Linked DNA regions of Homo sapiens. The protein of the gene in region 1 interacts with the protein of each later gene in a biochemical or structural test. Each region holds a gene or a part of one and is shown on either strand. Other genes may lie near its edges.

Region 1 (3,500 bases):
CGCTGCTTGCTGGCATCTGGGACCAGCGGTCGGAGCGGCTGTCTGTGGGGAGGGTGTGGCTCAGAACCCCACACTGGGGGTGGGCGGTGGGGGCAGCCCCTCCCAGGATTTGGTGCATGTGGGTTTGGGTTACAGTGATGGGAGGGAGTGGGTAAGGGTGAGGCCAGGAGCCCTGCTGGGCGGGTAGGTGAGAGGACAGGAGGGCGAAGTGGAGAGGAGGGCAGCCAGGGTGGGGAGGGGCCGCCACCCAGAGTGCCAAAAGGAAGAAGAAAGGCACAGGCAGAGGGGGGCTCACTGACTTGTCAGGGGTCTGCACCTGTGAAGGAAATAAGACAGACAGACAGATAAAGGGACAAAGGGACAGACACAGGAGAGGAAGAAAGACGGGGAGGGGTCAGAACAGCCGGGGACAAGGCGGCACTGAGTGTCTGGGGCTCAGCTGGCCCGACACCACAACCCAACCCCCAGCCGCCAGCAGGGGGCGCGGCGTCATTCAGAGACCCCTCCCCAGGGCGGTGCCCTGCAAGGCGCCACAGCCTCGGGAGGGGCCCTGTGCCTGCAGCCCCACCCCGGCCGCCAGGGGGCGCTGCCGCACGGTTCCGCCGGGCTGGGGCGCAGCACAGACTGAGCAGCAGCGGGCAGCGGGCGTGGGGCCACAGTGGGCCTGATGGCGTGGGCGCGGGCGGGCAGGGGCCGACGTACCCATTCTGCTGCGGGGCGCTGTCAGCGGGCGGGGGCGCCCCAAAGGGCCGGGCCGTCTTGTTGAGGGAGACGCTGGGTGCAAAGGTGTACCGCGGAGGGTCCGCGGCGGGGGCGGAGGCCTGGGCAGAGACACAGCCGGGCAGGGCGGGCGGGCAGGGTAAGGTGGGGGCCTGGGTGGAAGTGGGGCGCCTGCAGCAGAGGACAGCGGCAGCTCCAGCCCCCCACCCCCACCCCACCCCCTACATCTATTTGGAGGCTACGGGGAGAGGACGACTCAGGTTTCAAGGGGCCCATTTGGGAGTGGCGATCTCAGTCCACGCAGGACCGAGGGCTGACCGAGTGCGGGCGAGCACGCAGCGCCGGCGGCGGGAGGCAGCAGGCGGACAGACAGGCGGACAGACAGGCGGACATGCGTGGTGCCAGGACCGTGCAGCAGCCCCTGGCTCAACTCCAGGGCCCTAGACCCGCCTTAGCTCCGGTTTCTGCCCTCCACTCCCGGCCAGGGATTGGGGTACCGAGAATGTGCCAGGAGGGCGAGCAGGCCTGGCCGTCCAAGCCCACACCGCCCACCGCCCGGATGTCCCGGCCAGCCTCGTACCTTCTGCGGTTTGCTCTGAACCGGCTGGGCCCTGGAGGAGAAGGAAAGCGTGACAGCGGGCCGGGCCCGCAGGGATCCCCACTGCCAGCGCGGGCGCACCCATCCATGTCCACCCGCATACCTGCTGAGGCCCAGGCTGAGGCGCTCCCCGCAGGCCCGGATCTTGTTCTGAGCTTCGATGTGTGTGAGGCTACCCGCATTCTCGCCATCGATGCTCAGCACCCAGTCACCCACGGCCACTCCGGCCTGCGCCGCTTTGCCCCCAGGAGTGAGCTGTGGAGAGAGAAGCAAAGTGACCGAGGCCCTGGACCCTGCAGACCCAAGCCAGGCTGACGGTGGTAACACTGCCCCACCCAAAGCTGTCCCACTTCCAGAACCCAGAGAGCTCTTCATTCAACATAGTTCTAGGCAGCTGCTGGACACTAAAGCAACCCAGGAGGTGGTGGCGCTCACCTGAGCTTCACAATTTCCCAGTCACACTGCTTATTTATTCACTGCCAGACCCTCTCCCTCAGGTGGTGCTCACCTGAGCTTCCCCAGTCACGATGCTTATCTATTCACCGCCACCACCCTCCCCCACAGTCCAGAAATTGCTATGATGTCCACAAACAGCCACGCTCAGGCTAAAGCCCAAGTGTTTCAGGAGGACCATTGCCTTTTGAGGCTCCTGCTGGCCTCCTGCCCAGGCCACTCCACCTACCAGATATGCCCTCTGGCCCATGCAGGGGGCAGCTTCCTCCCCGAAACCACCGGGGGCTCTTATGGACCTCTCACCCCCCAGCACCCTGTCGGGGGCCATCTATAGGGGTCTGCTGGGACCCTTTGAGAGCCAGGAACAGGCCCTGTTATCTCCCGGTTCCCTGTGAACACTGCCTGAATGGGACCTAAGTTGACAGCTGGGACTTCGTAGGCCATACATGGCTGTCACTCCCAAGCCCTCGACTGCCAATTTCCCCTGACCCCAATCCTTCAGGCTCTTGAGCTGGGAGTCCCTGGTTCCTGTGGCAATGAGTAGAGACAGTAGGCTGGGAGAAATGGCTGCCACCAGCATGAGCTGAGACCATCAGGAATGACTTTGAGGAAGCGGTGGGCCTCGGTAAAGGAGAATGGCGTGTGCTGCCTAGCGGGTGAGAGTTCACTTACGATGGCTTTGAATGCCAGGGGAAGGGACCAGGACTTGGCTTTGAAGGTAGAGGGGCTACTGGCAGTTTTAATGTCTGGGATTGGGTATCTCCCAGGCCCTGAGAGGGTGACCCTGATAAACCCCTTCCAGGCCTCTAGCCCAGCCCCAGCAACACAGGCAGGGCAGCTTGACTGGGTCCAAGCCTAAGGGACCACCCAGCCATCTGGCAAGAGGCCTGGCACTGCATCAAGTAGGCTTTTGTGAGGCAGTGCTGGAAGACAATTTCACTGGGTGGGGGGGATCTGGGGGGGTCCAGGCTGCCAGTGGCCCCAGGAGGCTCCTCAGGTGGGTCAGTGCACAGACTGAGCTGAGGCAGGGAGAGGGGAGGCAAGAGGTTTCAGAGAGATGTCAGAGGGCAGGGCAGCCAGGCACAGAGCTTGACAGCACTGGGAAAAGAAAGGCGAGCTGGGCTCAACATGACCTCTTGCTTGCGTAGGAGGTCAGAAGGCTAAGAGAGCTCGGCGGCCCCTTCCTCACTCGCTAGATAAGAAGACTTGCTTCAGTTTATTGAGCACCAACTATGCTACATATTGACACTGAATCTTCCAACAACCTTGTGGAGTAATCTGGGATTTTACCCATTTTGCACTTGCAAATGTACACAGAGAGGTTAAACAACTTGCCTCAAGTCACCCAGCTAGTAAGAGGCAGAGCCAGGAAGTGTCTCTGACCCTAAGGCTCCACCACTGTGGGCCACCTCTGCTGAGCATGGGGGCCCAACTGAGGGGTCAGCCCACCTGGAGACACCCTGAGCCACTCCCTCACCTTTAGTTCAATCCAACTAAATCAACCCCTTATACTGTGTATGGGGAAGTGACACCCCAGAGGGGAAGTGACTTACTCAAGGTCATGGTGAGTCAGTAGAAGGGAAACCTGGCCCAGCCACTCCCTGCCCACAGGGCTGGCTCCTGGGAGCTGTGGGCTGAGCCCGAGGTGGGGGTCTTGGGGTGCAGCTAGCTGGCTCCTGGAGAGGGGGTGGGGGGCGGGGACGGCTTCCCTTCCCAGAGTGAGGAGGGC
Region 2 (3,500 bases), on another chromosome or scaffold:
TTGTTTACTCTAATTCATCTTCCAAAGTCTTTTTTCTAAGCCACACATAATTTGCTTGAAACCCTAACATCGAGGAAAAAATTTTCAGGCTAGTGCTATTTGATATTTTTTTCTTAAAAAAGTCTTTGGTGCAAATTGAATGTGCAGACAAGGAAAATAATTTGACTTCCTGGTATACATTTTGAATTTCCAGCCTAGATGAAGGCCAATGAAGGCAAATAGTAAAGCTCTCACTTAAAAATAAATAAGTAAAGTGGATTTTAATAGCAGAACCTTCAAATATTTGGCAGGAATCAGAGGGAACCAGTTATATGAAGCCTTGGTTTACAATATATTATGTCTTTTGCCAGTGGAGTTTTTTTCTTAGGATAGAGAACAACCTGTCTGAGCAAACATCTTGTCTGGGAGAATCAGAATATTTAACTCCATTTATTCAATAGAAAGTGTCAGCTGAAGGTATCTGTATTTTGACTCCCTTGAAATTCACAGATACATTTGCTGGGTGTTTATACCATCTACCTAGGCACCTTTAGGCAAAACCTGGTATGAGAAAGGGGTCTTTGAGCCCCAAATCAAATGAAGTCAAGTTTTCCAGTAGGATATTTGTTCCGACTCCCTCTCCTGCCCTATTCCTTAAAGCAAACACCATTCCTTTGTACTCCTTGAAATTAGAGGCCTCACTAGTATTGTCAGGGTGGCCTGAAGGAGGATAATGCATTTCTGTATATTTAGACACAGTGCAGTTTTCTCTGAAATTGAAATTTTGCTTATGAGGGGGTCATTTGTATTGTGTCTCCCACCTTTTAAAATGCACTACACTTCTCCACAGTCTGGGGCGGGGGGAAAGAGGGACCAGATAATTTTCATACTAAATCAGTCAGCTGGATGCAACCTTTTTAATTAAATGGAGCTTAGACAGCCCTGAAGCTAATGAAAATCTCTAGTACAACATTACCCTTATCAGATTTTAATTTTACACATTGGAGTAGAGAAATGATGCAGCATAGGCAGGTTATGAAAAGAAAATCAGCATCACAGTATTGGAATAGCAATGCAAACAGCTGTAGGAAGGTGCCGTTCACAAGGATGCACACCATTCCTATCAGGAGGCCCCGTGGGCCCTTCCTGCACTCTGGCAGAGAGGAGAGATTTCTGAAGCTGTTTAAGTTTCTTTAAATTAATCGGCAGTCATCATTGGATTTGGAGCACAGTAGCCATAAGAATGTACACTGTGTAGTGCTCTCTCAGCATGGGGTTTTGCTTGCTAAATTCTGGTATCAGCGAATCGGAAATGCATACCAGACCCTTTTAAAATGTTAGCATCTTTAGTAATCTCTTTTATTTTTCTTTAATTGGCCCTATATACAATTCATAAATAATTCAAGTGTTTTCAACTCATGGAATATTAAATTTTTTAACCTGCCAAGGCAATTTGAGTTTAATTTATACACTAAAATATATGGACTAAGCACAAATTTTTTGCCTTTATTGTGGAAAACCTGATGTCGTTTGTGTTGCAGGGATAGGAAACTGATAGGAAGTTTAAGTAATTCTAGCTTCCACTTCTGACTCCATCGTCTACGTTTACTGAAAGTTGTTCACTGTCTTTCTTATCAAGCAGGTGTTTCCGTTATATTGCACATTAAAATCAGACTTGGATTTCCAAGAGGAAATAAATTTTGGCTCCTAAACATAATTAAATCATAGTAAAGAAGAAAAACAAACAAAAAATTATTATTGTGTTTACAATTCTCAAATTTTTGACTAGTGGAGTTTTACATAGTTTTACCCTTTCTCCACAAGAAAGTTCTGATTGTTTTTTCAAGATCTCTGATGCCTGAACAGTGTGTCTCTCAACACACTTCCCAAATTTCCAGATTGTGTTAGCAGTAAAGCATATACCACAGAGTTTTCAGGCCAGTGTGGAAATGAATATCTCAACTTGGGATAAGAGATTAGCTATGCCTTTCACTGATAAATAGCAGCATTAAAGAAGCTGACAGAAATGAGTTTTCAGTGAGGTTAGAAATTTTTCCCACTGAGGGTTTTCAGGAGACATAATTGGATTGAAGGAAACTGACGTTTTGGAAAGGAAAATGTGACCAGAGTCACTAGACTCGACACATTCAGTACCAGGAGGACCTTCCATTTGAGAGCTCCAGGGCAACCTGGAACCACTGTGGTCTGCTCTCTCGAACATCCTGAACAGAGTAAGAGGCTGCAATTAGAGAAAGAAGAAAGAAAAGTAACTTCTGTGGCCATATATCTCTTGAGACTGCAGTAGTGACGTCACCATGGAATGATACAAGAACCATAATATTTTAAATGTGTTGTTTTCTTATCCATAACAAGGGACTTAGACATACCCATAGGAAGAGGCGGTATGTCTGGTGGTTGAAGCGGGGACTTTAGGATCACGTGTCCAGAGCTTCACCTCTGACTCCACCACGTGGGGTCTTAAGCAAGTTACCCAACTTTTCTATACCTCAGTTGCTTCATCTGTAAAATGGGGGTCATAATAATACTTGCCTCAAAGGAATATTGTGAACATTGTCTGAGCTAATCCATGAAAAAGCACCTAGCACAGTGCCTAGTATATAATAAGTAATCAGTGAAAGTAGGCTACAATTATTGGCTTTATTAAATGAGAGAATGTCTATAAGTGCTCTTTGCAAAATGACAGGACATGCCAAAAATGTAACATCTTATTATTAAACTTTGGAAATACTTGCCTATCAAGTACACCACTGTAAAACAGAAAACATTTGGAGTGTACATTCAAAATAGGCAGCAGCTCTCTTCTCTGGCCTACATTATTTGTTCAACACCTTTTGCATTCATCATCCATGGCATACAGTTTTGTGCATTATCTTATATCATTTTTGTCTCTTAATTATTTTATATGTATGAAGATTTAATCCCCAGTAGTAATTCAAAGTCAAGGTAAATGGTATGACCTTTAACCTGCCTGTAGCAATTGGCACAGTCTGAGAAAGCAATAGCTGGTAAATAATATCTTCCTTATTGACTTATTAATTGTGCTGTACAGTCCTAACAAATGCCCAGTAATTTTCAAAGCTCTCAATGAAGAAGCGGGTCAAAAGGTGGGTGTAGAATCCCGAAGTGCATTCACCGTACCCTGGCTTCATTTGAAACACAGATGGTACTTTGTGAAAAGTACGCTAAAGTGTCGGTGGTTGTAAATTGGCCAAACACAGTAATAACTGCGTCTTGCTGAAATGTCTTCTTGTACACCCAAAGTAGAATGAGGATGGTGAGAGAGAATCCATTAGGGACATCTCCTGCAATAAATACTCTTTTGTCTCAAGGAAAATGCTGCTGCAGTGTTCACATGGACACTCTGGCTGATATTCCCGTTCATTCATGCATTTGTTTATTCATTCATTCATGTATTAGTCATTATATACCAGGCACTGTTCTAGTTGCTAGGATATATTTAGTGAGCAAGACAGGCAAAGTATATCCCTACTCTTATAGAA

Evidence for each region. The genes of interacting proteins can lie anywhere in the genome.
Region 2: the proteins of PDLIM7 (region 1) and GRIP1 interact in a test that uses a peptide from one of them, tested with the Homo sapiens proteins (one large-scale study listed by IntAct).

What each region holds. Positions count from the first base shown.
Region 1 is NC_000005.10:177,491,105-177,494,604, forward strand, and holds part of PDLIM7 (PDZ and LIM domain protein 7), read right to left. Parts: intron 1,574-3,500; coding exon 1,422-1,573; intron 1,332-1,421; coding exon 1,301-1,331; intron 822-1,300; coding exon 703-821; intron 317-702; coding exon of another isoform or gene 300-316; intron 43-299; coding exon 1-42. UniProt on the Homo sapiens protein: May function as a scaffold on which the coordinated assembly of proteins can occur. May play a role as an adapter that, via its PDZ domain, localizes LIM-binding proteins to actin filaments of both skeletal muscle and nonmuscle tissues.
Region 2 is NC_000012.12:66,459,077-66,462,576, reverse strand, and holds part of GRIP1 (glutamate receptor-interacting protein 1), read left to right. Parts: intron 1-3,500. UniProt on the Homo sapiens protein: May play a role as a localized scaffold for the assembly of a multiprotein signaling complex and as mediator of the trafficking of its binding partners at specific subcellular location in neurons.